Linked DNA regions of Homo sapiens. The protein of the gene in region 1 purifies or fractionates together with the protein of each later gene. This does not show direct contact. Each region holds a gene or a part of one and is shown in the gene's direction. Other genes may lie near its edges. The genes, in order: GOT2, NIT2, THEM4, CTSS, PAK2, KYAT3 and TKT.

The links.
Region 2: the proteins of GOT2 (region 1) and NIT2 fractionate together in Homo sapiens (co-fractionation; one large-scale study listed by BioGRID). This does not show direct contact.
Region 3: the proteins of GOT2 (region 1) and THEM4 fractionate together in Homo sapiens (co-fractionation; one large-scale study listed by BioGRID). This does not show direct contact.
Region 4: the proteins of GOT2 (region 1) and CTSS fractionate together in Homo sapiens (co-fractionation; one large-scale study listed by BioGRID). This does not show direct contact.
Region 5: the proteins of GOT2 (region 1) and PAK2 purify together in Homo sapiens (co-immunoprecipitation; one large-scale study listed by IntAct). This does not show direct contact.
Region 6: the proteins of GOT2 (region 1) and KYAT3 fractionate together in Homo sapiens (co-fractionation; one large-scale study listed by BioGRID). This does not show direct contact.
Region 7: the proteins of GOT2 (region 1) and TKT fractionate together in Homo sapiens (co-fractionation; one large-scale study listed by BioGRID). This does not show direct contact.

What each region holds. Positions count from the first base shown.
Region 1 is NC_000016.10:58,724,317-58,727,816, reverse strand, and holds part of GOT2 (aspartate aminotransferase, mitochondrial isoform 1 precursor), read left to right. Parts: intron 1-3,500. UniProt on the Homo sapiens protein: Catalyzes the irreversible transamination of the L-tryptophan metabolite L-kynurenine to form kynurenic acid (KA). As a member of the malate-aspartate shuttle, it has a key role in the intracellular NAD(H) redox balance.
Region 2 is NC_000003.12:100,358,274-100,362,923, forward strand, and holds the end of NIT2 (omega-amidase NIT2), read left to right. Parts: 3' UTR 1-3,362; downstream 3,363-4,650. UniProt on the Homo sapiens protein: Has omega-amidase activity. The role of omega-amidase is to remove potentially toxic intermediates by converting 2-oxoglutaramate and 2-oxosuccinamate to biologically useful 2-oxoglutarate and oxaloacetate, respectively.
Region 3 is NC_000001.11:151,888,491-151,893,261, reverse strand, and holds part of THEM4 (acyl-coenzyme A thioesterase THEM4), read left to right. Parts: intron 1-3,888; coding exon 3,889-4,048; intron 4,049-4,771. UniProt on the Homo sapiens protein: Has acyl-CoA thioesterase activity towards medium and long-chain (C14 to C18) fatty acyl-CoA substrates, and probably plays a role in mitochondrial fatty acid metabolism. Plays a role in the apoptotic process, possibly via its regulation of AKT1 activity.
Region 4 is NC_000001.11:150,741,315-150,746,085, reverse strand, and holds part of CTSS (cathepsin S isoform 1 preproprotein), read left to right. Parts: intron 1-4,771. UniProt on the Homo sapiens protein: Thiol protease. Key protease responsible for the removal of the invariant chain from MHC class II molecules and MHC class II antigen presentation. The bond-specificity of this proteinase is in part similar to the specificities of cathepsin L.
Region 5 is NC_000003.12:196,745,720-196,750,490, forward strand, and holds part of PAK2 (serine/threonine-protein kinase PAK 2), read left to right. Parts: intron 1-4,771. UniProt on the Homo sapiens protein: Serine/threonine protein kinase that plays a role in a variety of different signaling pathways including cytoskeleton regulation, cell motility, cell cycle progression, apoptosis or proliferation.
Region 6 is NC_000001.11:88,946,977-88,951,747, reverse strand, and holds part of KYAT3 (kynurenine--oxoglutarate transaminase 3), read left to right. Parts: intron 1-2,470; coding exon 2,471-2,657; intron 2,658-4,771. UniProt on the Homo sapiens protein: Catalyzes the irreversible transamination of the L-tryptophan metabolite L-kynurenine to form kynurenic acid (KA), an intermediate in the tryptophan catabolic pathway which is also a broad spectrum antagonist of the three ionotropic excitatory amino acid receptors among others.
Region 7 is NC_000003.12:53,241,783-53,246,553, reverse strand, and holds part of TKT (transketolase), read left to right. Parts: intron 1-4,311; coding exon 4,312-4,429; intron 4,430-4,771. UniProt on the Homo sapiens protein: Catalyzes the transfer of a two-carbon ketol group from a ketose donor to an aldose acceptor, via a covalent intermediate with the cofactor thiamine pyrophosphate.

The sequences.
Region 1 (3,500 bases):
GTGAGCCTTTATTCTTAATTCTCTTCTTGGAAAGCCCTTTTACTCCTCCTTTCAGCCTTAGCACTCAGCTGCTAAGTCACGTCCTCTGGGAAGCCTTCCTAACCTTGTGCAGTACTTTCCTTCCCTTCTCCAAGCTATTACGTCCTCTGCTCAGGGCTCCCATAAGTAATATCCCATAATAATGCCCTGGGTAGGTGTGTATCACTATCCATCATCTCCCTGCAGTGCCCAGCCTGCATTACGTGCAGATCTCTGCTGATCACCACAGTGTACTAGTCAGGTGGTAAGGGATTGTGTTGTACTCTTCTTTACATTCCCAGCCCTTAGCATAATGTTCTTAATGATTGCTTTAGAAGATCATAAAGCCTAGAAAAGTGTTCTGGCAAGGCAGAGAATCTCTACACTCTAAACTGATTGCACAGTTTTTTCTTTTTTTAAAAAAAAAAAAACCTTTTATATTGTAGGTGAAGTCATTAATGACTAAACCAAGGAAACTAGGCCATCAAGATTGGGCAAACTTTGTTAAAATGTTAACTTGTGTGCGCCTGTAGTCCCAGCTACTTGAAAGGCTGAGGTGGGAGGATGGCTTGAGTCTAGGAGGTCAAGGCTGCACTTCAGCCTGGGGGACGGAGTGAGACCCATCTCTTTGTTTGTTTGTTTATTGAGACGGAGTCTTGCTCTATTGCCCAGGCAGGAGTGCAGTGGTGCATTCTCGGCTCACTGCAACCTCCGCCTCCTGGGTTCAAGCGATTCTCATGCCTCAGCCTCCCAAGTAGCTAGGATTAAAGGCGCACGCCACCTTGCCTAGATAATTTTTGTATTTTTAGTAGAGACAGAGTTTCACCGTGTTGGTCAGACTGGTCTCAAACTCCTGACCTCAGGTGATCCGCCTACTTCGGCTTCCCAAAGTGCTGGGATTGCAGGCGTGAGCCACTGCACCCGGCCGAGATCCATCTCTTTAAAAAAGAAAAAAAAAGTTAACTCAGCTTCTTTTCAGATTCACTTACTATAAATCAAAACAAAATTCACAGCCGGGTGCAGTGGCTCACGCCTGTAATCCTAGCATTTTGGGAGGCCAAGGTGGGTGGATCACTTGAGGTCAGGAGGTAGAGACCTGACCAACAGGGTGAAACCTTGTCTCTACTAAAAATACAAAAATTAGCCAGGCGGGGTGGCACACATCTGTAATCCCAGCTATTTGGGAGGCTAAGGCAGAAGAATCGCTTGAACCCAGAGACAGGTTGCAGTGAGCCACGATCGTGCCACTGCACTCCAGCCTGGGTGACAGAGCAAGACTCCGTCTCAAAAATAAATAAATAAATAAATAAATAAAGCAGGCCGGGGGCGGCTCACGCCTGTAATCTCAGCACTTTGGGGGGCCGAGGTGGGTGGATCATGAGGTCAGGAGTTCAAGACCAGCCTGGCCAACACGGCGAAACCCCGTCTCTACTAAAAATACAAAAATTAGCTGCGCATGGTGGCAGGAGTTTGTAATCCCAGCTACTTGGGAGGCTGAGGCAGGAGAATCGCTTGAACCCGGGAGGCGGATGTTGCAGTGAGCCGAGATCGCACCATTGCATTCCAGCCTGGGCGACAAGAACAAGACTCCGTCTCAAAAAAATAAAAAATAAACAAAATTCACTAAGTTTTGTCCTCATATGCTCTTTCATATTTAAAACAAACTGGTCTTTTAGGATGGTAGTTCTCCCTGGGAACATGTTCTGTGTTAGTTATGTTAGCATGCAATGTGTTTCCATCATTGCTATTGTCAAATGAATCAAAAAGTATAACAAGCTGCTCAGTTTTTCTAATACAGTAAGTATTAATAGTTATACCCCACATAAATAAAAGCTCTTTGGGGTTTTCAGTAAGTTTTAAGAGTATAACAGGATCTAAAGATCACAAAGTTTGAGAATTGCTGCTTTAGACCAATACTACTCTTTTTCCTTAAAAACACACAGTTGTATTTATTTGTCACTGTTGATCCTAGTGTGGTCTCAACACTCATTGCTTATCTTTTAACCAAAGTAGCTTCTATTTCCCAGAGAAAATTAAGAAGAGAGGGTGGTGATGTCAGTCCTACACAAGCATTCTAAACAGACTGGCAAAACTCGTGAACACACGCAGTACAACTTCTACAGCCACATGTATCCCTTTTATACCTCCTTAAAGTGGCAACAAAGAAAGACCTTTTTATTTTAATGACTCAAAGCTATAGCCTCTCGAGCATGTAAAAATAAACAAAGGTATATAAATTTTAAATTATGCTTGGTAATCAATGTGTCTGTAGTCTATCTTAGAAATTATTTAGGTATACAATGAATAATAATCTGTTAATCAATTCATTGTAATATTAGACCAAAAGTGTAAGTTACCCTAAAGATCTTAGAAATTGTCTTCAAGGCCAGGCGCAGTGGCTCACGCCTGTAATCCCAGCACTTTGGGAAGCTGAGGCGGGCAAATCACATGAGGTCAGGAGTTCAAGACCAGCCTGGCCAACGTGGTAAAACCCCATCTCTACTAAAAACACAAAAATTAGCTGGGTGTAGTGGCGGACACTTGTAATCCCAGCTACTTGGGAGGCTGAGGCAGGAGAATCACTTGAACCCAGGAGGCGGAGTTTGCAGTGAGCCAAGATCACGCCACTACACTCCAGCCTGGGTGACAGAGTGAGATTCCATCCCCCAGCTCCAAAAAAAAAAAAGAAAGAAAGAAATTGTCAAGCTGGCATATTACAAAATACAATTACTGTTCTCCCAAAAGCTTATCCCCAGTCTAATAAGAAAAACATCAGACAAATTCCAGTAGAGGGGCATCCTACAAGATACCTGACCAGCATTCCCAAAATTGTCACAGCGAAGAGGAGCTTATGGAGACATGCAACTAAGCATAATGTGGTGTCCTAGATGGAATCGTGGAACAGAAATAGGTAAAAGCTAAGGAAATCTAAATAATGTGTGGACCTAATAATGTATGGACCAGGCATGGTGGCTCATGCCTGTAATCCCAGCACTTTGGGAGGCCAAGGCGAGCAGATCACCTGAGGTCAGGAGTTTGAGACCAGCCTGGCCAACATGGCGAAACCCCGTCTCTACCAAAAATACAAAAATTAGCTGGGTATGGTGGCGGTCATCTGTAATCCCAGCTACTCCAGAGGCTGAGGTGGGACAATCGCTTGAACATGGGAGGCAGAGGTTGCAGTGAGCTGAGATCACGTCATTGCACTCCAGCCTGAGTGACAAAGAGGGAAACTGTCTCAAAAATAATAATAATAATGTATCAGTATGGATTCATTAATTGTAACAAGTGTGCCATACCAATGTAAAATGTTAATAGGGGAAACCTGGGGGTAAGGGTATATGGGACTGTACTATCTGCTCAATTTTCTGTAAATCAATACTGTTTTGGCTCACGGAGGCTGAGGCAGAATTGTTTGAACCCTGGAGGCAGAGACTGCAGTAAGCCAAGATTGCACCACTGTACTTCAGCCTGGGTGACAG
Region 2 (4,650 bases), on another chromosome or scaffold:
AAGTGATATCCGAATAAAATGAACACTAGATTCCCACTTGGAGTGGAAGAACATTGCAGTTGAGGCCTTGGGTAAGTTTTAACTGCCATACCCCTGTACTCCCCGACTTTCTAATGAATTAGACAATGATGTTTTATTTTTGTTTTTTGTTTTTGCATAATACTTTGAAGTCTGCTATCACAAGTTGTGAACCTCTATCTCTTGCAGTTTAGGTAAGGCAACACATTTAATGAATTCACATTTAAGTGAATTCCTCACAGGGATGACGACCTCTGTTGAAATAGGTCAGGATGTGCAGTTTGTGGTGAAAGTTCTACTTGACTTTGACCTAGCTGTTTGAAGCTGAGAGCTAACAGATAATAAGTGTTGCACTGGTTGCAAATGAATAAATAAGTAACATTATGGGGTTTTAAATGACCAAGGAGTAGATTGTGACATCGACTGGGTATTTAGGGAAGGACTCCTTCCTGATACCAAAAGTTAGGTCTGTGCAAAGTACACCAAGTGGAAAAAAGTTTAGACAAGAGTTTAGGTTTCAAGATAAATGTTCTGCTCTATTGGCACTGGTTTTAAGTCTTTTGTGCTACTTTTTAGGCATTGCTGTGTAAGTTTTGGTGGTGCGTGGGTACAATGAAGCCAGGAGGGATAGAAAGGGAAATGATGTGTGTGCTGCAGGCTAAACAGGGGCTCTTCCTTATGCCTCATAACCACCTGTGTGTGACAGTTTCACATTTCCTATCAAATTATTATCTTCATTCATTTCTACTTGTGAATGAAGTTCGGAGACTAAGAAAAAGCCAGCTGTTGGAATAGAAAGCACTTTAGGATAAAATGGTCTTGTTAAAATCACCAATTAAAAAGTTAAGCCCCTGATGTACAAATAACTAAAACACATACATACAAAGACAGTGCTTCTTGTTCAATGATTTACTTCACAGCTGATTCATAATCAAATGAACAAGAATCTGCAAGAACAGAACATGGTGGGCAGGGTCCAGTAATTCCAAATGTTGTCATCCTAGCTCTTCCTGAAGCATATTGAATCCTCCAAGTATATCCCGTTGTGCTAACTAGGCTTTAAGTCTTTTGTCTGTAGATTCATTCTCAAAGTTTCTCCCTCAGAACAAAGAGCACGCCATCCTGTAAAGTACTCTTCCTGATTTTTTTTCACCCAATTTCTTAGTTTCTTTCAATTGCTTTTCAGACCCCGGCAGGCAGATTCTGCCCTCATCTGTCCAGTGACACTCTTCTGGCAGATTACTAAAGACCGATTTGTAGACCTGTCCATGTGGCCTCTCTCAACACCATTGGTGTGACCTTGCTCATACTGCCTCTCTCACCACTTAACATTGTCCCTTAGATGTTAAAGGCCCTTATATTAATAGTTTTATTTTAGCTCCTTTACATTTTATTTTGTCCTGAGGAATCTCAGCTACATGCATGGTCTTCAATATATGCCGATAATTCTCATTCACATAGCTCTCCTGTTGGCTTTTCCCCACTCGTTTAAAAACAACCACTTCACTTTGCTGGACTCTACCTTGAATGCCTCATTTTCAGCTCACACTCATGCTGTGCCTTTATTTAGATTTGTTGTGGTTGTTTCCCCACATTCTGGAAGCTCCTTACCTAAATCCTGTTTATTCCTTAATGCTTAGCACAATTTATTACTCTTGTTTCCATGGCACTACATTGTACTTCTGTTTTAGAGACTACCTTCCTCTGAAGCATATGACAGGTTCATTTACTATCCAGCCCACCAAAACTCAGTTTTTGAGCTCCTCTATGTTCATCTTTTTATGGCTAACCCTCACCATCATGAGTGCTTAGTAAATGTTGAGTTGGAATGAATTTATTCCTACAGGTTGCACTTGCTCTCTCACCAAGTGTTCTGGCCAAATAATTCTGGAATGATTTCCTTACCTTAAGGGAGTCTGATCTGGGAAGAGCCTGGGACGTGATGTAACTTCATATGCTGTAGAGCTGAATATTCATTTACTTAAGATCTTAGCTCCATTAGAAAGCAGTGAAAGCAGTGTTAATTCAGAGGCCGGGTATGGTGGCTCACGCCTGTAATCCCAGCACTTTGGGAGGCCAAGATGGGCAGATCACTTAAGGTCAGGAGTTCAAGACCAGCCTGGCCAACATGGCAAAACCCCATCTCTACTAAAAATACAAAAATTAGCCGGGTGTGGTGGCACATGCCTGTGATCCCAGCTACTCGGGAGGGTAAGGCAGGAGGAGGTTACAGTGAGCCAAGATCACACCACTGTACTCCTGGGCAACAGAGTTAAACTGTATCAAAAAAAAAATGCAGTATTGATTTAGAGCTAAGGTCACCTGATGCTCAGGCCAGTAATTTCTCCCTGCATCATGCTGTTGTCTAAGGCAGACACTGTAAAGCTCTACACTGCTGAAAAACTAAGCTTGAGATGCATAAAAGAACACATAGAGATGGGGAGTCAGTTCTCCATACATTTTGTGAGTAGAGGCATTGGTGTTTTGTTCCAAACTATCCAATCGAGAATGTTCATATAATGACAGCTTTGGAAGGTAGAGACTATCTTCCTCTGGATCATAGGACAGGTTTGTTTACTATCTGATACAGTCAAAATAGTGTTTCCCTCTAATGCGAAAGTCAGGCCAGTTTGCTTGTGACCTCATTAGATTTGGGCTGTGACGCAAACCCACTGCATGTGCAGTATCCACCTAGCTTGCCCTGTGTCACTCCCATGGGATCTGTGGCTCAAACTCATGTTGCTTGCTATGTTCTAAATAATTAAGTCTGTTGTCTGACCCAGGAGTCTCATGTCTTCTGCCAGCATTCAGAAAACTAGTTTTCAAGAAGGGTAACATCTTAGACCTTTTACAGCTCTTGACACAGAGCAATATTGAGAAATAAAATCAGGTAAAAGTTATTTAATATAGCAGTTCATAATTTAGGCCATGGATCATCTCTGCAGAGAATCCTACCATGCTGCATTCTTGCTTTAAACCTTTCGCCCTCTAAAACAATGCCCAAGAGCCAATGTTAGTCATGGTCTTCCTGTATTTGCTCTAGGTAAGCTGTTTCATAGCCTTCCAGGACAACACTTGCACAGGTTATCTTTAAGCACCAACAAAAGAAATGGAGAAATTTGAGCCATGTATCCTGAGCTCTGAAAGGCAGCAATCATCTTGACCCCAAGCATACACCATGTTCAGCTTCCTCCCCTTGGCCAGGTACCACAGCTACTTCTATCCCAGTGATCAGCAGGCCCTCCAGCATGAAGACCTTTGAGAAGGATCTATAGCTGTCAACTCCTAATATGATTTGTGCACTATCACCTTGAAGTAAACCAGACTAGTTATTTTCATGCTAAGAGTCTGAAAACAGTGCCTTCTTTCTGATGTCTCTTGTAGAATATTGGCAGAGGGATCTCAATTTTTACTTTATACCTGAAGGGCAGCTTTTTGGTCTGATAGTTATAGTGCAATCATTCATATTTTAAATCACAAATACCCCCACTTGTTGATGAAAACTCCAGTCTGTGGCATGGGTGTACATTCACTGCCTAAACCATCTTTGGCCAAAATTTGTGTGTATATGAAGTCATTCTACTTTAGCATACTCAAAGGCATTCCTTTAAACCATTTATCTGCTTGTACACAATAGCCAAAGGAATATTTGTTACTATGGCTGATGTAATAAACTATCATCACAAATTTAGTGGCTGAAAAAAAACAAAGTTATTCTCTTTTACTTCTGGAGTCCAAATTCATGGGGCCAAAATGAAGGTGTTGGCACTCTGCTCTAGGGCAGGATCCGTTTCTTGCCTTTTCCAGTTTCTGGTAGTTGCCAACATTCTTTGGCTTGTGGCCACATCACCTCCAGTCTCTGCCTCTGTGGCAACACTGCCATCTCCTCTTCTGTCTAAAACCTTCCTCTTACATAGACATTTGTGACTGCATTTTAAGGTCACCAGATCATCTAGGATAATCTCCCCTTCTCAAGACCCTTCACTACATCTGCAAAGCCCATTTTTTGCCAACTAAAGTAACATTCACAGGTTGCAGGGATAAGGATGTGGCTGTCTTTTGGGGAATCATTACTCATCCTATCAGTGTGGTAAAGCTTGCAAGTAAATTAAAATTTTGTCACTTTGTTCACAAATCAATTTAGCAGAGGATGGGAATAGGACTAATTATAACCCGTATCCCCACAACAACTCCTAAGTTATTTCCTTATAAATACAAATTCCATACAGGACAGTCTTGGGTAATTGTTATTCTATACTCCTAAGTTTCCTGGTTTGGCTATATTGTCCTCCTGTTATAGTCTTATAACAATTAGTTGACTTCTACAGGTACAAACTACTATTTAAACTACAATTTGAGTTCCCAGAGGGCAGAAAGTTCTGTCTGAACTGTTTTACAGCCAAAGTTGCTTTTTATTGTTTTGGGATGTATTCTCTACTTATACCACAATTTTCGAGGATGATTATTTCAGGTATGCTTTCTGAGAGACTCCACGTGGTTGAGAACTATGATCAATCTCACTGGTGAAACCAGATTCAAAATAAACTTATCCACAGGGTCCATGTCTGATTGGCAAGCTTCCAGGCTGCTGTGCATGTATGGGTAAGGTAGAGGCAAAGAATGAAATAAGTT
Region 3 (4,771 bases), on another chromosome or scaffold:
TAGCTGGGATTACAGGTGCATGCCACCACACCCAGCTTATTTTTATATTTTTAATAGAGACAGGGTTTCACAATGTTGGCCGGGCTGGTCTCGAACTCCTAAATTCAAGTGATCTGCCCCACCTTGGCCTCCCAAAGTGCGGGGATTACAGGCATGAGCCACTGTGCCCAGCCTATCTTGAACCCACTCCCTCAAAACAGCTCTTGCCAAAGGTACCAGTGACCTTCATGTTGCTGAGTCCGCTAACCTCTCAGCTTTTGGCACAGCTGTTGACTCCTTTCTGTTTGAACATAACTTCTAGGACACCACATTCTCCACTTCACTGGTGCCTCCTTTTCAGTTTCTTGGGCTGGCTCTTCCCCATCCTCAAACCCTTCATGTTGGGGTGCCCTCAAGTCTCAGTCCTTAGTACTCCTCTCTTCTCCACACTCCATTGGTAATCTCATGCAGTCTCTCAGCTTTAGAGACCATCCAGAAGTTGACAACTTCTTAATTAAATGGTTGAAATTTAGTGCCTGGGTTCAAATTCTGGTTCCACAATTTAAAGCTGTGCAACTTTGAGCAAGGCACTTTACCTTTCTGTGCCTCAGTTTCCTCATGGTAGATACTTTAGTATTTGCTGAAGGAATGAATAAAACAAAAATAAAACTAATCAAGAAAAATTATAGAGTTCTTAAGTTTCTTTGCAGAATCTCTGATATATCTCGAGGGAAGAATTATTCTGTTTTATAAATGAAGAGGAAAAATGTGTAGTTTGTATTACTTATTCTCTTCCAACTGTTAGCACATCACACAACTGACTGTCCTTATCCCAGCACAATCTGGCTTCTACCCTCACAGCTCTACTGAAATGTCTTCATTGAAGCCACTAGTGACGGAAGTGCCAAATTCAGTGTGCATTCTTCAGCACTTACTGTACTAGACCTCCCTGTCTCATTCTCATTGAAACATTTTCTTTTGGCTTTCATAAACCTTTCAGACCAATCTTCCCTCCTCCTTCTACTTGCTCCTTAAATGTCAATGTTTTCCAGGGTTCCATTCCTACATTTTGCTCATTTCTTCATCCAACCCTCATTCGCTCTTGACTAAAATTTGACCCTCTCAGAATCAAGAGGAGTTTGAGATCCTCTTTGCTACCCACACTTGTTTTCAAACCATTACTTCCCCTCATCTTAAAAAGCCCTCTGGGCTGGGCACAGTGGCTCAACACTTTGGGAGGCCAAAGTGGCAGATCACTTGAGGCCAGGAGTTTGAGACAAGCCTGGGTGACAGAGCAAGATTCTGTCTCAAAAAAAAACAAAAACAAAAAACCTCTGTTTCTTTGAGTTTATACCATCTAACTTTGTCACCCTCCTCTTCTTCTCCTCCTTGTTGCTGTCATCTGTCAACCTCTCCCTCAGTGTTGAGTATTTCAGCAGCTGGTCCGCTATCTACCCAACTCCATTCAGCATCCTCAGCAACTCGAGCATCTACACAGTGGCTCCTCAGTTTATGTGCTTCCTCATCACCTATGAACTTTTCTTATCCCCCAGCCCCAGCCACACACTGCCATGAACATCTCGAGCCTTATCTTCAGACAGTACACAGCCTCCAAATGCATACATTTAAACATCCTGTTTTCTGATGACAGCATTTTTCCTTTCAGCAGCTTACTTGTTCAAAGGCCCCTCAGAAACAATTGTTATTTCATTAAGACCTTCTGAGTTCATTGAATCCTTTACTTTCTCATGGTCCAATAGCCCTCATCTATCTGAACTTTTGTAGCCCACCTAACCTAGGAAAACCCCAGCCCTGGATGAATCCAACCATCTGCCATCTTTACTTTGAACTGGCTTTCACATAGTTAAGCATTGCTAGAGAAAATCACCCCATCTAGCAGATAAGTTTGGTGATTGTGATTTTTGTAGTTTCATCTCCTGTCTCCATTCTTATCCTCCTCAAAGCCCTTCTTCCACTCAACTGTCAGAATGATTCAAAATGCAAATCTCATCATGTTATTCCAATGCTATTTTCAGTGCTATCCCATTTCTTAAAATACTCTTGCCTTTCAGACTTAAAAATGAATATGAAGCACCTAGGAATCTTGTTAAAATGCAAGTTCTGCTTCAGAAGGTCAGAAGTAGAACCTGAGATTCTGCATTTCCAACAAACTTCTTTCACCATCACAAAGGACAAACACATCCTCTTGAGAGTAGTAGCTTTTGGTCTTTATTTTGAAATGACCTACATTTTAACTCAACCCAGACCTTATTTTTCTCATTTTTATGAAATAAGCTCAAGGTTTGCCAATCTAGACCAGAAATCTCAAACTCCTAAGTAAAACAATTATAAGCACTTAACACCTATCTTATCCTGAAGTCCTGGAATGTCAGAGTTGGAAGAGATCTTAGAGCTCATTTTGTTTTATCTCCTCATTGTATGGATAAAGTGTAGTGCAAAAGAGTGAGTTCTAGGCCAGAGGTAGGCCAATAATTTAATTTTCCCAACTCACGGGCCAAGGTTCTTTCCACTGCACCATAATACTGATCCCCAATTTTAAGGTTCCTTGTCTGTCCTTCTAAACCATCAATTCACTCAACAACTGCTTAAGTGTATATAGTATGTGCACATCTGTGCCATTTGTTGGGTATGCAAAGTCTAAAAGACAGGGTGCCTGCCCTGAGATGCTCATGACCTAATTCAAATGCATCCTTCCTGTCCCTCTCCCCACTTCTCCTGGATCTTCTCATCTGTATCTTTTTCCACGTTTGTAAATATAAATTCAATAGAAATAAACAGTTTTATATATGGCAAATCATGATGAGCTATGAAAGAAAGGTGAGTAGGGGGATTAAATTTTAAAATAGATACAAAAGGATAAATGCACTATTTCTTGAGAGCAATGGCTTTCAATCTTTATTTTGAAGTGACCTATATTTTGATTCAATCCAGTTCCCCCAACTTGCTCACAATTGTGTAAGTGAAAAAAAACTGTGTCTAAACAAGTGCACTATTACTTACCCAGAGTATATGGTTCTGTTAACTAAGTGTTCTGTTTCTTTTTAAAGCCTGGTTAATGGCCGGGCGCTGTGGCTCACGCCTATAATCCCAGCACTTTGGGAGGCCAAGGCAGGCGGATCCCTGAGTTCGGGAGTTCAAGACCAGCCTGACCAACACGGAGAAACCCCGTCTCTACTAAAAATACAGAATTAGTCAGGCGTGGTGGTGGGCGCCTGTAATCCCAGCTACTCAGGAGGCTGAGGCAGGAGAATCGCTTGAACCCGGGAGGCGGAGGTTGCGGTGAGCTGAGATCACGCCATTGCACTACAGCCTGGGCAATAAGAGTGAAACTCTGTCAAAAAAAAAAAAAAAAAAAAAGAAGCCTGGTTACAACCCACAATCTGATTTCATGAACCCTAATGGTTCTCACTGCCAGTTTTGGGGGCTTAGAGTCACAATCACTTGAGTGTTGGGCTGAACTGACCCTGTTGCTGATTCAGACTCAACTCATGTCTGCCAGGGAAACCTCCTTTCTGTTACATTTTTTATTTTCTGTAAATTGCATTTAAACCACAGTTCTTCCAAGAAGGATTTCCGTCTTTACCGTACCATTTTATTCAGTATATTGTTAGCGTTTATATACTATATTCCTGATTGCCATGTGTGGGTACTTCATTTTGATTTCATGTCTGTTTACTCTGTCCCCAGTTGGACTGTTAATTCCACAAGGGCAAAGATCCTATCTTCTGTTTCATTGAGACGCTCCCATTCCTTTCAATTTTGCACCCTGTGGACATTTGAATCAATCATCTATTGACATGTGATTCTAGCAGGGTACAGGTGCTTGGCTCTGCCATGGCATTTCTCTCACCCTTGTTTCTCATTTGCCATCCACCTCATTTTCTATAGACCCAAAGCTTATGAAAGAAGAACAAATGTCACAGGCCCAGCTCTTCACCAGAAGCTTTGATGATGGCCTGGGCTTTGAATACGTGATGTTCTACAATGACATTGAGAAAAGGATGGTTTGCTTATTTCAAGGAGGCCCTTACCTGGAAGGACCACCTGGGTAAGAATGATAGCCTGAAAGTGTGGATCTAAAAGATTTTTATCTTACACTGCCCCCATGTGTCCTGTACATGGACTACAATAAAGATTTTCAAATGGTCACATAGATGTATATTTATTGACATGGAAAGATGTTTATAATACATTATTAAAGGACATCTTATCTATATTATTAATATTGATTAAATATTTTTATATATGAGCATTATAATATTATAGGGCATAGGGCAATAGAGTATAATTTGAGAGCATATCATTAATGTGTTAACAGTGGCTTGTCACTGACTAGGTGGGTAGTATTATGGGTCCTAAATTTTTTTCTTTTTTTTCATATTTGCATTACCTACATTTCTAAACAATGAATATGTATAGTTTGTTTTGTTTTGTGAGACAAGGCCTTGCTCCTTTGCCCAGGCTGAAGTGCAGTGGCATAATCATAGCTCACTGCAGCCTCGAACTCCTGGGCTCAAGCAATCCTCTCACCTCAGTCTCCCGAGTAGCCAGAACTACAGGCACATGACACCACACTTGACTAATAATAAAAACATAATATAAATTTTCTAAATTACATTTTAGCTTTTTGCTTGCTTGCGATCTGGTTACTATTAAGTTCTGGTTTTATTACAAATACTTAAGACTATATTATTATGCTGTGAACAAAACAAAGTTGGGGACATAGATAGTATTTGGCATTCAGTACACTGAACATGGGCTAAGTGGACCT
Region 4 (4,771 bases), on another chromosome or scaffold:
ACTTACAGAAACAGACAGTAGAATGATAGCTGCCAGGGACTGGAGGCTGGGTAATGAGGAGATGCTGATCAAAGAGTGTAAACTTTCAGGTATAAGATGAACAGATTCTGGGAATCAAAGGTACAGCACGGGTGGAGATGGATGTGTTATTTCATTTGATTATGTCAATCATTGCACAATGTGCACATACATCAAGTCATCACACTGTATACCTTGAGTTTATACAATCTGTCAATTAAATATGTTCTTTTAATTAAAAAAAAAAGTTTGATGCCTCTCCCCTAGCTTCTGAAAGTTTGCTGGTGATCTTTGACTTTCCTCAGCCTTTAGGACAATCACCCTGACCTCTGCCTTCATTTTCACATGACATTCTCCCTGTATGCATTTCTGTCTCTATTCATAATTTTACTTTCTTCCCCTTTTTGAGACAGGGTCTCACTCTGTCACCCAGGCTGGAGTGCAGTGGGGTGATCAATGTTCACCGCAACCTCAAACTCCTGGGCTCAAGCAATCCTCCCACATCAGCCACCAAAGTAGCTGGCACTACTGGCATGCACCACCACACCAGACCAATTTTAATTTCTATTTGTAGAGACAGGATCTCTCTATGTTTCCCAGGCTGGTCTCAAACTCCTGGGATCAAGTGATCCTCCTGCTTTGGTCTCCCAGAGCACTGGGATTACAGGTGTGAGCCACTGCGCCTGGCCAATTTTCCCTTTTCATGAGCATCATTCATGTTGGATTAGGACCCACCCTAATGACCTCATCTTAATTTAATTAATTATGTCTACATCAACCCTATCTCTAAATAAGTTCACATTCTGAGGTACTGGAGGTTAGGATTCCAACATGAATTTTGTGGGGACACAATGCAACCCATAACACCCCTTAAATCTTTACTTGAAGTACATAGTCTACAAATCAAACAAAAGGTGCTTTCCTACCCTTTTCCCACTGTGGCACACATAGAAGATGATGATATTCGTATGGCCCATGGGGAAAGTAGCTGAGGGGATCAATATCTTGGTTCACTGATAACCTATTCACAGCACTGATCAGCTTGGGTGTAGACCAGTGATAGCTTTTTAAAATGAAACTATTTCCCTCATATCTTATTGACTCTCTAAGGAACTCCCTACGGCAGGTGTTCTAAATTCCCTTCTCTACTGAAGTTGCTCTTGAAGATCATCTATATCTTTTAGTGTTGAAATTCAAATCTGCTTCTCTTCACTCATTCATTCAACAAGCACTTACTAGGCATCTACAATGTGACTGGCATTATCTAGGCCCTGGAGATACAAAAAATAGTAAGAAACCATCCTGTCCTAAAGGCACTCACAATCTAACATGAAAAAATATATATAATATATATTATATATACATACATAATATACAATACATATTATGTATGCATACATAATATACAATACATATTATGTATGCATACATAATCTATAATATACATAATATATAATATAATACATAATATACATATATAATATATAATATATTATGTATACATAATATACATATATAATATATAATATATTATGTATACATAATATACATATAATATATAATATATTATGTATACATAATATACATATAATATATAATATATTATGTATACATAATATACATATAATATATAAATATTATGTATACATAATATACATATAATATATAATATATTATGTATACATAATATACATATAATATATAATATATTATGTATACATAATATACATATAATATATAATATATTATGTATACATAATATACATATAATATATAAATATTATGTATACATAATATACATATAATATATAAATATTATGTATACATAATATACATATAATATATAAATATTATGTATACATAATATACATATAATATATAAATATTATGTATACATAATATACATATAATATATAAATATTATGTGTACATATTATGTATACATAATATACATATAATATATAATATATTATGTATACATAATATACATATAATATATAAATATTATGTATACATAATATACATATAATATATAATATATTATGTATACATAATATACATATAATATATAATATATTATGTATACATAATATACATATAATATATAATATATTATGTATACATAATATACATATAATATATAATATATTATGTATACATAATATACATATAATATATAATATATTATGTATACATAATATACATATAATATATAATATATTATGTATACATAATATACATATAATATATAATATATTATGTATACATAATATACATATAATATATAATATATTATGTATACATAATATACATATAATATATAATATATTATGTATACATAATATACATATAATATATAATATATTATGTATACATAATATACATATAATATATAATATATTATGTATACATAATATACATATATAATATATTATGTATACATAATATACATATATAATATATTATGTATACATAATATACATATATAATATATTATGTATACATACATATAAATCTCTCTATATATAAATATAAATATATTTATAAATATATATATATATATATATATATCTCCCAGCCTCCCAAAGTGTTGGGATTACAGGCGTGAGCCACCACCGCACCCAGCCTAGATGTATTTTTAAACGATACAACAAACACATCGTGGTATAATGATACATGTCTAAATGGCTATGGGACTGTTGAAGAGGAAATGCCTAACAGCCTAAACCTCCACAGAGAAGACACTATTTGAATCAAGTTTCCAGATGTATGGAATTGTTCATGTATTGGAGGAGGAAAGTGTGTTAGAGGTTGGAAAGTTGCTCTCAATGACCCAAAAAACATATGCAATGGCACATTTCTCACTATCTTGATTCATTTTGCTACATCAACTTTAGCCTCATATCTTACGTTATTTTATCCACCTGCCTGTTACATGAGTTTGCTATATCAAAGCAAACTCATCTATATCAAAGCAAACTCACCTGCTCCTTCAGTTTCAACTATTGCCATTATGTAGATGATCCCCAGTTCATAATCTCTGAAAATGACCTCCTAAGTGACACACTTCCTTGTCCAACTTCCAATTTGGCAGCTCTCCTTGAAAAATCCAAACTCCCCACCTACATCACCCTACTACCAACATATACACACTCTCATACTCAATAAGTTTACAATGTTCTTCTCTTCCTTTCTTCCCTCATCCCTGAAAAGGATTTTCAAACAAGCTCAAGGGAAAACTATTCCTTATTTTGGGTAATATATTACCATCTTCAGATTATTAAAGCCTAAGCATCATCTTGGCCTTTTCCTTTTCCCCCCTCAACCCACCCAGCCCTATCCATTTGGCCTGTGAATCATATTTTATATGTATTTTCTCTTTGCCATTCCCAATGGCCCTGCTGTAATTCAGATTCCATTCTACCCAGCTATAGCGGTATCTTTTTAAAATATAGATCATGTCAACTCCTGCTCAAAAATTCTGAATAGTTCACCATTGTCTAAAAATGAAGTCCAAACTCCTGGCCAGGCATTCCAGGTACTCCATTATCTAGCTTTTAACATAACCTTAGACATTTCTTCCACTATATTTTCATATACCCACAGTCATACTCTGGCCACAGTGAACTACTTATTCATCATTCCCTAAGTTTACAGATACATCCCTACCTCTGTTTCTTTATATATGCTGTATCTTTCTGAAATGCCTGTGAAGTCCAATGCTGTCTATAGAAATCCCACCTGTCTTGGTGAAATGGGCATTCTTATACAGTTTGATGGGAAAGTAAGCTGTATTTATTCTTTTTTTTTTTGAGATGGAGTCTCACTCTGTCACCAGGCTAGAGTGCAGTGGCATGATCTCAGCTCACCGCAACCTCTGCCTTTAAGGTTCAAGCAATTCTTCTGCCTCAGCCTCCCGAGTAGATGGGACTACAGGCATGTGCCACCATGCCCAGCCAATTTTTGTATTTTTAGTAGAGATGGAGTTTCACCATGTTGGATGGAGTTTCACCATGTTGGCCAGGATGATCTCGATCTCTTGACCTCGTGATCTGCCCACCTCGGTCTCCCCAAGTGCTGGGATTACAGGCATGAGCCACCCTACCCTGCCTATTCTCTTTCTTGGAAGCAATTTGACAATATGATAAAGAACTTTTTAAATGTTCATATTCTTCCCCCCCCCTTTTTTTTTTGAGACAGAGTCTCGCTCTGTCTCCCAAGCTGGAGTGCAGTGGCACAATCTCGGCTCACTGCAACCTCCGTCTCCCAGGTTCAAGTGATTCTCCTGCCTCAGTCTCCCAAGTAGCTGAGATTACAGGTGCCCACCAAAACACCTGGCTAATTTTTGTATTTTTAGTAGAGATGGGGTTTCACCATGTTGGCCAGGCTGGTCTACCAACTCCTGATCTTGGGTGATCTGCCTGTCTTGGCCTCCCAAAGTGCCAGGATTACAGGCGCAAGCCACTGCGCACAGCCAGTGTCCCATTACTTTTATTTCTTGGAATCTATATGAAGAAAATAATCCTAAATATGGGAAAACTTTCATACACAACTTATGTGAATTGTAGCATTATTATTTAATAGTAAAAACTAGTAAGTAGCCAAAAATGCCTAACAATAGGTATATGATTAAATAAACTATGACATAATCAACTCCATGCATTAGATTTATTCAGACTATTATTAATAACCTAATAAAATACTTGGGATATATATTTAAATGAAAAAAGATACACATAAATACAAAATTTAT
Region 5 (4,771 bases), on another chromosome or scaffold:
AGGAGAATTGTCTGAGCCCGGGAGGCGGAGGTTGCAATGACCTGAGATCAAGCCACTGCACTCCAGCCTGGGCAACAGAACGAGACTCCATCTCTAAGTAAAAAAAAAAAAAGAAGAAGTAGTAACTAGATTTTTCTGTTCATTGGTATTTTTATTATCTTACTGGACTTCAGTAAACGTCTTTATTTTGTTTTCCAGGTTCATTGTTTTATCTGAGAATAATAGTAACTTCAGTCACTTTTCTATGGTTACAATATTTAACCTTTTTTTTTTTTCTTTTTCTTTCTTTTTTAAAGACGGGGTTTCACCGTATTAGCCAGGATGGTCTCGATCTCCTGACCTCGTGATCCGCCTGCCTCAGCCTCCCAAAGTGTTGGACAGGCATGAGCCACCGTGCCCAGCCCTTAACCCTGTTTTAGGTCTTTATTACATTGGCCTGAAGTTCCAAGACTTGGTTAAACAAGAGACGTGTCGTTGTCTTGAAATGACTCTGGTATTAATATTTTTACAGTTAGGGATGATGGCAGCTGTTGGATTTAGAGAAAGATTATTATTTTATTCTGTTTCTGCTTTACAAAAAATAGGAATGGCTTCTGAATTTTATGAGATGCTATTGTAACATTTAGATGATGATATGGTTTTCTTCTTTTAACTATTGCTGAGGATATGTAATAGTAAATTTGCTATTAATCAAAGGTATCACAAGGTATATATCGTGAATAACCAAAATCCCACTCATATTAGTCCTGCGTACGGAATTTATTGAAAGGTTAGAGGAGAATCTCATATAAATTTAGATTAATAAGAATAGGCCGGGCACAGTGGCTCATGCCTGTTATCCCAGCACTTTGGGAGGCCGAGGCAGGTGGATCAGCTGAGGTTTGGAGTTTGAGACCAGCCTGACCAACATGGAGAAACCTGTGTCTACTAAAAATAGAAAATTAGCCAGGTGTGGTGGCAGGTGCCTGTAGTCCCAGCTACTCGGGAGGCTGAGGCAGGAGAATCGCTTGAACCCGGGAGGCGGAGGTTGCAGTGAGCCGAGATCGTGCCATTGCACTCCAGCCTGGGCAACAAAAGTGAAACTCTGTCTCATTAAAAAAAAAAAAAAAAAGGATAGGCCTTTATGATAACTTCTGTAGTTAACTTCTATAACCTATTCAGGAATCCTTATTCATGAGTCACTTTTGATAATTCGTATTTCCTAGATCATTTCTTTTAGATTTTCAAATCTGTTACTATATAGGTGTGTATAATCTTTTGTCATTAAGATCTGTGGTATTCATTTCCTTTTTTTTATTAGTGATTTCACTATTTTTCTGAATTTGCCAAATGTTTGTCTACTTAGTGGTTTTTTTTACTAACCAGCTTTGAGATTTACTTATTGTATTGGTTTTTTTTTGTTTGTTTTCTGAATGCCTGATTTCTACTTTTCTCTTTATTTTGCTCTCCTGCTTTTTTTTTTTGTTGTTAACAATGTTAACATTAAGTTAATGTTAATGTTATTAATTCTTAATGAATTCTTAGTTCCTTTAATGTGTTTTCGATGAGCGGTAATCGCTCCTCGGATAGACCTCATTGGCTACGATACCGCCACTGTGCAAAGCTAGTTCATTTTAATGTCTTTTAATAATAAAAACCTTTAATGTTCTTAATTTGCTTTTGAATGCAGCGTTGGCTGCACATTCTAATTTACATGGACAATGTTCTTCTGCTCAGTATTTTCCAAATAGCTGGTGGTTCTAGTTTTGATTTCCTCTTTGACTCAGGAGGTATTTAGGATAATTCTATTCACTCATATTTTCTTTCATTGTTGTCAGCTTCTATAATCTTTTAAAATATCTTTTAAACTTATTGAGTGTTTCTTGTGACTTAAAACATAATCCATTTTGGAAAATGTTCTATGAAAACTTAGAACATTTTCTGTTGGTAATATACAGAGTTTTATACATAACCTATTGATTAAATTTAATGACTAAGATTATTTGTATGAATTACCAGTTTTTATAAATAGTTCTTACTAAATATAGGACTTAGTCTTTATTAGTCCTAGTAAGAACTATAGTCGTTATTAATAATTCTTATTAATGTAAAAATCTTCCTAATCTGCCAAAGACAAAGAGGTAGCATTGTTTCTGAGAAGCTTGTTCTCACGTTGGGACCTTTAGATTTTTATTTCTTCTGCCTGAATGTCACTGAGGCCATATTTGAAAGAGATCTTTCATGATCACCTCTGCCTACCCCCACTCCGCATCTAACTTCCTGCCCTTCAGTGTGTTTATTTTCCTTTATAGCACTTCCATCTGAAGTTTCTTTTTCATTTATTTGGTTTTCTTTAATATACTATTCTGTTTTACAGAGCTTTGAACAAATAGGTATGAAATAAGTATGTGTTGGTTGAGTGTCACTCTCTTATTTCTAATGATTTTTAGAAATTTTTATTCATTTTAATTAATAGACTTTGCAGCATTTTAGGTTCACAGCAAAACTGAGCCTAAGGTACAGAGTTCCCATATACCCCATGCTCCTCATGCCCCTCTTCTCCAAGCCTCCTGCTCATCAACATCCTGCATCACTGTGGTATATTTGGCACAGTCAGTGAACCAGCATTCACACATCATCACTGCCCAAAGCCCACAGTTTACGTTAGGGTTTGCTCGTATGGTATTGTACATTCAGTGGGTTTTGACAAATGTATAACAACATGTCTCCACCAGTATCATACCGACTGGTTTCCGCACCTTAAAACTCTCTGCTCCACCTGTTCCTCCCACTTTTACTGCAACCCCTGGCAACCGCTGATCCTTTTACTACCTCCATCGCAATGCCTTTTCCAGAATGTCCCGTAGTTGGAATTATATAGCGTGTAGCCTTTTCAACTTGGCTTCTTTCACTTAGCAGTATGCATCTGAGGTTCTTCCGTGTCTTTTCATGGCTTGATAGCTCATTTCATTTTAGCACTGAATAATATTCCATTGTCTGGATGTACATTCACCTATTGAAGGACCAGGTTTGGTGATTATGAATAAAGCTGCTGTAAACATTGATGTGTGGAGTTTTTTATTGTGGTGTAAAATACATGTAACAGAACTTACCATCTTAACCATTTTGAAGTATACAGTTCAGTGGTACTAAATACATTTATAGTGTGCAATTATCACCACCATCCATCTCCGAAACTTTCCATCCTGCAAAACTGAAATTCTATACCCATTGAACCATAACTCCTCATTCTCCTTTCTGTCTGCATGATTTTGGCTACTCTTATGTACCTTATGTAAGTGGAATCATATTTTGTGTTTTTGTGACTTATTTCACTTATCCTCAAGCTTCATCTGTGTTGTAGCATGTCAGAAGTTCTTTTCTTTTTTTTTTGGGTGAATAGTATTCCCATGTGTGTATTTACCTTATTCTGCTTGTCCATTTATTCATCAGTAGACACTTGGATTGCTTCCGTAATTTAGGTACTGAGATTAATGCTACTACGAACATGGGTGTACAAATACCTCTTTGAGACCTTGTTTTCAGTTATTTCGGGTACATACCCAGAATGGAATTGCTGGGTCATATGATAATTCTGTGTTTCATTTTTTGAGGAACTACCGTATTGCTTTCCACAGCGCCTGTATCACTTCACGTTTCCACCAGCAGCGCACAGCAGTTCAGTTTCTCTACATCCTTTTTAACACAACCGTTGTTGTTTTTAATAGTAGCCATCCTAATGGGTATTAGGTGGTATCATGTTAGTTTTGATTTGCATTTCTCTAGCAGTTAGTGATGTTGAGCATTTTTTCATGTACTTATTGACCATTTGTATATCTTCTTTGAAAAAATGTCTATTCAAGTGCTCATGTGTAGGTTTTCGGGTGGACATAAGTTTTCAGCTGATTTGGGTGAATACCAAGGAGCATGATGGCTGGAGTGTATGGTAAGAATGTATTTCATTTTGTAAGAAACTGTTCAACTTTCTTCCAAAGTGGCTGTACCATTTTGCATTCCCACCAGCAATGGATGTGGGGGTTCCTGTTGCTTCACATCTTTTCCAGCATGTCATGTTATCATTGTTTTGGATTTTACCCATTCCAATAGGTAGTAGTGTTTCATTGTTTTCTGTTTTTTTTTTGAGATAGAGTCTTGCTCTGTTGCCTGGGCTGGAATGTAGTGGCACGATGAGAACTCACTGCAGCCTCGAGCTCCTAGGCTGAAGCGATCTTCTCACCTCAGCCTCCAGAGTAGCCAGGACTACAGATACGCTACCTTACCTGGCTATTTCTTTTTTTTTTTTTTGAAACAGAGTTTCGCTCTTGTCGCCCAGGCTGTGGTGCAATGGCATGATCTGGGCTCACTGCAACCTCCGCCTCCTGGGTTCAAGTAATTCTCATGCCTTAGCCTCCCAAATAGCTGGGATTATAGGCGCCTGCCACCACGCCTGGCTAATTTTTTGTATTTTTTTTGTAGAGATGGGATTTCACCATATTGGCCAGGTTGGTCTCGAACTCCTGAGCTCAGGTGATCCATCCACCTCTGCCTCCCAAAGTGCTGGGATTACAGGCGTGAGCCACCGTGCCTGGCCTATACCTGGCTAATTTTTAAAATCTTTTTGTAGAGACGGTTCACTCTGTTGCGCAGGCTGGTAGATACTTCTTTTGCAGATATTTTTTTTCTAAGTCTGTGGTTTAAGTTCTCATTCTCCCAACTCTGATGATTTCTGTCATGTTTTGATTCAGTATTATTTGGTACGTGTGTAAATTCTACACTGCTCAAGATCTTCATT
Region 6 (4,771 bases), on another chromosome or scaffold:
AAAATAGGGAAATACTATAATTACTGTACTGAGATAAAAAAGATTTCTAGAATACATCATAAAGTAAAAAAGAAAAACTATTTAAATATTATTTAATATTTAATATTTTTAATATATATTATGGAAATAGGGATTTAGTTACCATCATTCTATGGATAATCAAAATGCTGAAAAAAATAGTATTTTTCTAGAAGGCAGTTAAAAGGGCAAAAGAACCAGGCACAATGGCTCACGCCTATAATCCCAACACTTTGGGAGGCCAAGGTGAGCGGATCACCTGAGGCCAGGAGTTCGAGACCAGCCTGGCCAACATGGCAAAACCCTGTCTCTACTAAAAGTACAAAAATTAGCTGGGCATGGTGGCAGGCGCCTGTAATCCCAGCTACTCAGGAGGCTGAGGCAGGAGAATTGCCTGAATCCAGGAGACAGAGGTTGCAGTGAGCTGAGATCGTGTCACTACACTCCAGCCTGGGCAACAACAGCAAGACTTCGTCTCAAAAAAAAAAAAGAAAAGAAAGAAAAAAAAGATGTTGATAGATATGAAGAAGAAAGATAAAATAGGGAAGAGGAAGGATATAAAGCTCCAGGTGGGAGATATACAGTGTTAAATAGGGTAATCTTTGAAAGCCTCCCTGATAAGGTAACATTTGAACAACTAACTGAAGGGGATTAAGCAGCCACATGGTTACCTAGAGAAAAACCCCTTTGGACAGAGAGAACAAGCGGAAAGGCCCAGTGGTAGACAGCCTGGCTGGCATGTTAATATCAGAGAACAGCACAGAGACTGGAATGGAATGATTGAGAGAAGAGTAGGAAAAGCTAAGATCAGAGAGGTAGCTGGGAGTCCAATGGAGCTGGGGCATGCATGTCACTGTAAGGACTGAGTGAGATAGGAAGTCACTAGAGAGTTTTGAACTCAGGAGTGACTTGGTCTGGCTTGTGTTAGCAAATGGACTCTGACTGCCTCATTGAGTGAGAAAGCTGTTACAGTGATCCAAGAGAGAAATGCCAGTGCATTGAACAAAGATGGGGGTGGTAGAAGCAGTAAAAAGTGATTGGACTCTGAATATATTTTGAAAGTAGAGCCAACATTATTTGTCAATAGGTTACATATGGGATATGTGAAAAAGAAAGGAGTCCAGGATAATGCTGTAGTTAGGATGGATGTTTATGTCTCCTTATACTTGGAATTTTCTAAGGCAGTATCTCCTATAGTAAATGAACAAGTTGCCAAGAGAAAAAAAAAAAAAGATATAGCTAAGAATGCAGAACATCTTTTTCTGAACACTCTTATTCTCCATTTCAGCTAGGTGCTCTGTTTTGTCCTGGGACAACCATGTTTGGTTCCAGGAAACCACAGATTTCCAGGCTAAGGCAATCGATCCTTATTTTCCAAGATTTTGTAGTACTGGAGATTTATTACTAATTCTGTTTTACTGCATTCTTTTGGCATAAAATCTCTGTGATCTTGCCCCTCTCTGTCTCCAGTCTCATCTCTTGCCACACAGTCTCTCTTACCTGCCTGGTCCTTAATGTCTTAGTTGGACTGGGTGGCTTATAAACAACAGAAATTTATTTCTCACTGTTCTGGAGGCAGCAAAGTCCAAGATAAGGCACCAGCAGATTTGGTGTCTGGTGGGGACATGCTTCTTCACGGATGGTGCCTTTTGCTGTGTCCTTACATGGTGGAAGGAGCAAGCTAACCCTCCTTTGTAAGGGCACTAATCCTGTTCCTGAGGGCTCTACCCTTCTGTCCTAATCACTTCCTAAAGGCCCCACCTCCTAATACCATCACCTTGGGGTTTACTATTTTAATATATGAATATGAGAGTGGGCACAAACATTCAGTCCACTATACTTAACAACATTGGCTTTTTCCTTGGCCCAGTTTGCTGTCCTGGCTCTTGAAGAAAGATAGAGGAATTACTGTAGATGTTCCAGAAACTCATTTCTAGTCCCTCTTACACTTTGACCAACTTCCTGGCATATGAATAATTCCAGCAAGGATTTCCACACCTATGGAGAATAAGAAAGGCACATTTCTCCTTTGCACAGTAGGTGAGCTTTCATTTCCACTCTGTCCCCAAATGTAATGGTGAGAGGCTGACTACTCTCTGGTTGTTCTTCTGACTTAGATTTAGCAAGTCATTCTACAACTCACCTCAGCAGAAAATATCTTAATGTCTTTTTGTTTCCAAGCAAGCCACCTTTAAGTAACAGCTCTTTTTCAATTTGAATTTTCAGGACTCCTTCTCAGTTCTTCACATGAGATTTAATCATTTAGGTATAACTGATTCCTCCATTAACCTATAGAGTTTAATATAGGTTCACAGGAATTCAACTGTTATTTCCTGAGTGACTTCTTTGCCAATAATTTTACTCAGATCATCTCTATTTATTATACCAATAAACTAAGCAATAAATAACATTGCCATATGCCTTTTCATATTTTTTGATTCTTAACAAACAGGAAGCCTTGGCTCAAGCTTTCTGGATTGACATCAAGCGCATGGATGACCCAGAATGTTACTTTAATTCTTTGCCAAAAGAGTTAGAAGTAAAAAGAGATCGGATGGTACGTTTACTTGAAAGTGTTGGCCTAAAACCCATAGTTCCTGATGGAGGATACTTCATCATCGCTGATGTGTCTTTGCTAGGTTTGTAAAGGCTTTTATTATTTCAACTATACGGAAACTTATGTGTGAAATTATATCAGAATTATGGAGAAAAGATTGGTGTCAAAGCCACAGCAGCATTTTATCTGTGGAGAAGGATGGATTTTTGCAATGTCTACATTTTCTATAATTATCTTTACTTTTAGGCCTTTTACCTTAAATGTGACCATTGTTAAATGGTTATGGAGTCAGTGTTGTTCTAGTTAGTCTATTAAACATAGGATTTGCTATCACTCTCTTCTGGTGTGTAATTTTAAAACACAAGTGTGTGAAATAATATTATATACTCAGTGTTCATTTGAGTAAAATTGTAGTTTCCTTTTTACTTAACAAAATGTACTATTTCATTAGAAAAATATCTAGAAATTTTGAAGCTATCAGGGAATATTTGCCATTTTAGAATGTACTGAAATAAAATAAATGGGAGAATAACACTTATTGAGGGTCTACTTTGTGCCACGTACTCAAAACACCCTTTTGAAGAAAACATTAGCTCCATTTTTGCAGGTAAAAAGATTTAGAAAGTTTTAAATAGCTTCCCTGAAGTCACACAGCTAGATTCTAAATAGTTCTGTTTCCAAAAAGCATTGTTTTTTATATTACCTAAAGCTGTTATATGTAATTCTGACATGCCATACAAATCTAAAGTTAGAAGCATGATAATGTGTCATATATAACTTTTCTTTTAAAAAAATTAGTAATAGTAAACCTTGAAGCCTAATTTATCATGACAGAAATTACAGCCATTCTAAATATAGTTTTAAATGTTTTAAAATTTTATTACAATGAAGTTATATGCCAATGAACTTGAAAAACTGAAGTGTTTTATTTATACTAAATTGTATAAAGCTGGAAAGAGTAAAGGAAATTTTCAATTTTATAGCAAAACATTGATCATATTTTTTAACTTTACATCCTTCACATAGGAGTTTGTTTTGTTTTGTTTTGTTTTGTTTTGTTTTGTTTTGTTTTGTTTTGTTTGAGGCAGGGTCTGGCCCTGTCACCCAGGCTGGAGTGCAGTGGCGTGATCTCAGCTCACTGCAACCTCTGCCTCCTGGGCTCAAGCCATCCTGCCACCTGAGTCTCCTGAGTAGCTGGGACCACAGGCATGCACCACCACACCTAGCTAATTTTTAAATTTTTTTTAGAGACGAGGTTTTGCCACATTTCCCAGGCTGGTCATGAATTCCTGAGCTTAATGAGTGATCCACCTGCCTCAGCCTCCCAAAGTGCTGGGATTACAGGCATGAGCCACTGGCTGAGTTCTTTCTTACTATAAGCATTTGATGCTAGCAATTTTTACTTGTAATAGTTCATTATCATCTTAGCAAATTTCAGAAAAGTAAGGTGTTATGATTTTCCTATAATTTGGTCTTCAGGTCTGTCTCTCTGGAAAGTGGCTGTAAACTCTAGCTGTTCCCTGATGGGGCTCCAGGGGAGGTCCTGGATGTTTGCAGTGTGCCTTTCATGGGCTACTTGTTTATCCTGGCAGATGGCCTGATGTTAAGTGTCTGACCCATGACCAGACATCCCTGGAAACTGGTTTATACTGGCAGACATCCTTGTGGCTCTCATCTGACCTGTATCCAGTTTATTTCCACAGAGATAGCCACTCTCTAGGAGGAGGAGAGTTAGGTTCCGGTGTGTTGGTCAGTTGGGACACAGAAGAGGCAGCAGGCCTCCCGGGACCAATGGGAAGTGAGGAGTGGTCCAGGATATACACACTCAACCAGCAGGTGGGGAACAGAGAGAGAGTGGGATCTGTGGGCCAAAGCCTTTTTGGGGGCCCAAGGTGTTACCCAAGCAGGTTTCCTGCAGAGACTTCTAACAGATGGGTTTAGAGCGAGCAGGCACAAGCTCATGGTGTCAGGCTGTGACTGAGAGGTGGTCACTGTGGCATATCTAGGCAGTCCATGAGGAGGGTGGGGGTCAGTGGGCGAGTCAAGTAGGTTGTATCTAGCTGTACCACAGTGAGGTGCTCGCCAGGAGGTGGTTGTCTCAGGCAGATATCTGAATCAACTACATTGAGGAACTGTGAGGAGGAAGAGAAGTGGAAATTGTGTCAAGGGTGACTAAGCCCTGCTTCTGGTATAAGA
Region 7 (4,771 bases), on another chromosome or scaffold:
ATACAAAAAGACTTGTACATAAATCAATATGGTCTTCTTTGTTAAACAGATCCTTCTGCACTGTGCTTTTTTCACACTATATTTGGGAGAGAATATTGATACCGGATTTGTGAAGTGTAGCTCGCTCATTCTTACTGCTGTATAGTATCCCATTATATTAATATATTCCAGTTAACCTCGTCTATTGATAAACATATAAGTGAGTTCCAGGTCTTGCAATTGCAAACAATGCGGGGCAGCCCTGTTTGTGTTTCCTTTTTTTTGTTGTTGTTGTTGTTTTTTTCCTGAGATGGAGTCTCACTCTGTCACCGAGTCTAGAGTACAATGGCACGATCTTGATTCACTGCAACCTCAGCCTCCTGGGTTCAAGTGGTTCTCCTGCCTCAGCTTCCCAAGTAGCTGGGATTACGGGTGCCTGCCACCATGCCCAGCTAATTTTTGTATTTGTAGTAGATACAGGGTTTCACCATGTTGGCCAGGTTGGTCTCGAACTCCTGACCTCAGTTGATCCACCCACCTCAGCCTCCCAGAGTGCTGGGATTACAGGTGTGAGCCACTGTGCCCGGCCTGTTTGTGTTTCCTGTAGAATGTGTGGAACATGTGAGTACATTTCACTGTATGTTCCTACTGGTGAAGTTGCTGGGAGTTAAGGGATGTGCATCTTCGGCTACTGATCTGGTTTATTTTTAATGCTTGAAAGATTACTTAGGTTCTCTATTTCTTCTTGAGTCAGTTTTGGTAAATTATTTTCATTATTGTTATTATTTTTTAGACAGAGTCTCACTCTGTTGCCCAGGCTGGAGTGCAGTAGCATGATCTCGGCTCATTGCAACCCACGCCTCCGGGGTTCAAGCTATTCTCCTGCCTCAGCCTCCCAAGTAGCTGGGATTATAGGCATGTGCCACCACGCCCGGCTAATTTTTGTATTTTTAGTAGAGACGGGGTTTCACCATGTTGGCCAGGCTGGTCTTTGAGCCGCTGACCTCAGGTGATCTGCCTGCCTTGGCCTCCCAAAGTGCTGGAATTACGGGTGTGAGCTACCGCGCCCAACCTGACATCCATTATCTCTTGAAGGAGCCCATCTGGAGGGTGAGGGAGCCTCTCTGGCCTTTTCTTGCATAGAAACCTGTGAGCAGGTGGAGTGAGCACTAAAGCGATGACAGAGATTCTCCTGGCCAGGGGACATCTGGAAGAATATATATTGTCCTGGAGGGGAGTGGAGAGGGGGCTTTTTTTTTTTTTTTTTTGAGATGGAGTGTTACTCTTGTTGCCAAGGCTGGAGTGCAATGGTGCAATCTTGGCTCACTGCAACCTCTGGCTCCCAGGTTCAAGTGATTCTCCTGCCTCAGCTTCCCGAGTAGCTGGGATTACAGGCGTCCACCACCACACCTGGCTAATTTTTTGGTATTTTTAGTAGAGATGGGGTTTTACCATATTGGCCAGGCTGGTCTTAAACTCCTGACCTCAGGTGATCCGCCTGCCTTGACCTCCCAAAGTGCTGGGATTACAGGTGTGAGCCACTGCCCCCAGCCTGGAGGGGGCTTTAAGAGACTTTCTTTGGGCCTAGCTCTAAGCTTGCCACACCACCGTCACAGGTTGAACTAATTGGGGTTGTAAGTGGACTGTTTTGGTCAAGGCAGGGTGTGTTAGTTTTTTTTTTTTTTTTTTGAACAGTCAAGTGTGCTTGTTAGCCCTGTTTATCACAGAGTCAGGGTATACAGTAAGTACCCTGTAGCCCCTCCACCGTGCTCCTCACCCCATCTCTCGCCAGTGTTCACCCAGAGTTGTCACACACAGCACCACGGGATGGGGCGTCCACCTGCAGTTGTGCAGGCAGTCTGGAATGGCAGGAAAAACTCTGGCCCTGAGGAGGCCACAGGCTTAAATGTATGCCTTTGGCCCCAAAGGCCCGCTAGGAAGTTGAGCTTGAAAGTAACTGTCTCCTGTGTGCTCAGTGCTTTACAGTGTGCAGAGCCCGGTCTCAATCCTTGGTGTATTTCTCCCCTCTTGCCTGCCTGTGGCCAGCAGGAGTGGGTGGTGTCACCATCCCTGCCTGTAGATAAGAGCTGCAGGTGCTGAGAGGGTTGGCAGTGGTGGCGGCTGCTAGAGACCTGGGTACTGTGCATGCTGCGTTATCTCACTGTGTCTCCCAGACACTCTCCCAAGTGAAGAAGCTGAGCCCCGGGTTGACGAAGCACTTGTTGAAGTCACGAAGCCCAAGTGGCACAGCTCACCTCCCCAACCCAGGATGCTCTGCCGAGGGAGAGCCCCAAAAGCTCTGGGGAAGAGTGCGGGGACACCTGGCTCCTAAGCGTTCTTCTTTTGTGCGTGTTTACTTGGTAGAAGTGAAGAGAGTGGCCGCAGCAGGCTGGATGCAGCCTTTGGAAGGAATGAAAGGCTGCAGGCCTAGCAAGGAAGGCTTAAAATCAGCTGCACGTTCTACTTCTCACCCTTGGTCACCTCGCAGCTGACCTTCCTCTCTCCACGTTTACTCTATCTGGGCCTGGGTGTGCTTCTGCCACACACAGAAAGAGCCTGTGCCACACCATTTCTCCCTGGAACCCCTTCTGGTGGCCAATGGGACTGTCACCCCGGGGTGTCGAGGTGGATGGGGCAGGTGGAGCCCTGCACTTACCGTCCTTGTTCTTCCCCGGAACAGTTTGGCCCAGTGTCCACCCACATCCTTCTCCCACCAAGGATCCCTCCTAATGGGACCATGGCTTTAGAAACAGGACCCCTCAGGGCCGGGGCTGCCCTTGGAGGTGGGAAGGACGAGAGGTCAGCCTGAGGTGACCTCCAGTTGAAGCTGGCCCTGGGAGCGTGGGATTAGGGTGGCCTCCAGTTGAAGCTGGCACTGGGAGCGTGGGATTAGGGTCCCTGCCAGGCAGAAAAGGGTTTCTCGTTTACCATGTCCTCCCCTCCCTCTTTCAGGTGTAGTGTCTTTTCCCATGACCGGGAGTTCATAGAAATAGTTAAGTATAAGATGATCGTGTGCGAGAATGTTGGTACTAAACCAGCATGGACAGTTTTCTGGATTTCTCTACTACTAACTTGTCTGCACTGAGCGTGACTCACCCCTAACCTGGTGGGAGCGCTGATTGGAGGGGCGGGAGGCTGGCGGCGTGAGCTCCAGATGGTGCATGTGCCCTTGGGCTTGGCATGCGGCGTGTCTTCGTGTGAAGGACCTCTGGGAGCAGCGAGAGGGCTGAGCTGAGCTGAGCTGAGCTGCATGTGGAGGGGCCCTCCCGGGAGGCCTGTGCCCTGAGGCTGAACTTTTAACAAAACCCTGGGACCAGAGGGCTTCAGGGCTGATCAGGACCTGCAGCGCTTCCTGCTGGGAAGCAGGAAGCAATAGAAAGTTTACGCTTTCTATTGCTCAGGAGCCGCTCAGTGATTAAAACAAGTCTAAAAAGCCAAGGGGACTCCGTGGCCCCACCACTCCCAGGCTGGAAGGCAGGTTCTTGCTTTGTCAGCCCTTCCTCAGCCCTTGTCCATAGGCAGAAGGGGTTTTTATTAATACATGATTGTAGCCTTGTAGGAGATGAGATTATGTGTCTTGCTTTGAAAATTCTACACAAAAGCCTGTTTCCTAGTTGCTACAGCAGCCCTCAAACTGCCCATTTCTAAAGCTTTCAAGTAGCCCAGTGATGCAATTGGAAAGCCCAAGGCCCAGTTTTTCAGGCTACCACACCCCATGCGTGGAGGCTGCTGGGAGGTCTGTGGTAACTCCATGAGCCTCAGTCCCTTCCTCCCTGCCCCATGGGCTCAGAGGCCCAGCACCCCTGGGTGCTGAGAGGGCAGGGTGCCCTTCACAAGTGGGCAGTGTCCGGGCAGTCCTGTCAGGATGTGGGGTCAGTCGTAGGAATGCCGGCACCCCTTGGCTGCTGAGTCCTTAGACTCCTGGGGGCCACTAGGTGGGAACTGGGTTCTACCTGACAGCAGCTGCCCCCAGCCGCAGTGCTAGCCTTGGGCTGAGTCTTCTGTGCTAGATCTCTCCTGGGCCCCTCCTTCCTTCTTACTCAAGTCCAACCCCAGATATTTTCAGTTGCCGTGATTCTGAGGATCTGATGCCCCTGGAAAGGTACAACAGTCCCCAGCACCCACTAGCTGGCCCAGGCCCCAAACTGCCAGGAGTGGCCTTCTTGAGACCATGTGTCACCCTCCCAGGGAACAAGAGCTCGTGGCTGTCTGATAAGCCAGGCCTGTGTGACTCCTCAGGACATGCACCCCCAGGTCCCTGTACAGCTGAGCACAATAGCTCAGGAGTGCAGGGCCATGATGCCTGTGTCTGTCTTCTCTCCTGGGCCACAGCCACCCCACGTCATGCTGCAGCGCCGCAGAGATCATGGCTGTCCTCTTTTTCCACACCATGCGCTACAAGTCCCAGGACCCCCGGAATCCGCACAATGACCGCTTTGTGCTCTCCAAGGTAAGAGCCCAGCTGCCCACTGCCAGCCACACCTTGCCTGGGACTAGGGTCACACGGGCCCTGGAATGGTGAGTGGTCTTTGAGGAGACCTGGCTGGGCCCACCTCTCCCAGGTGCCTTCTCCCTGCTCGTCCTGGCCTCTCCCTCAGTGTCCTGCTCTGTGCTGACCCAGCTGGCTAAGGAATACAGGACTGAATTGATGGGTTGCTCTGCCATGGAGCCCAGGTACATAAACAACGCTTTAACTCAAAGAAATGGAGTAGGGGACTACGGAAACATCTGTTGTGTGTTCTGCCCAGTCTGGGTGTTGACAGGCAGGACTGGCATCTCGGTCTGGGTTGTG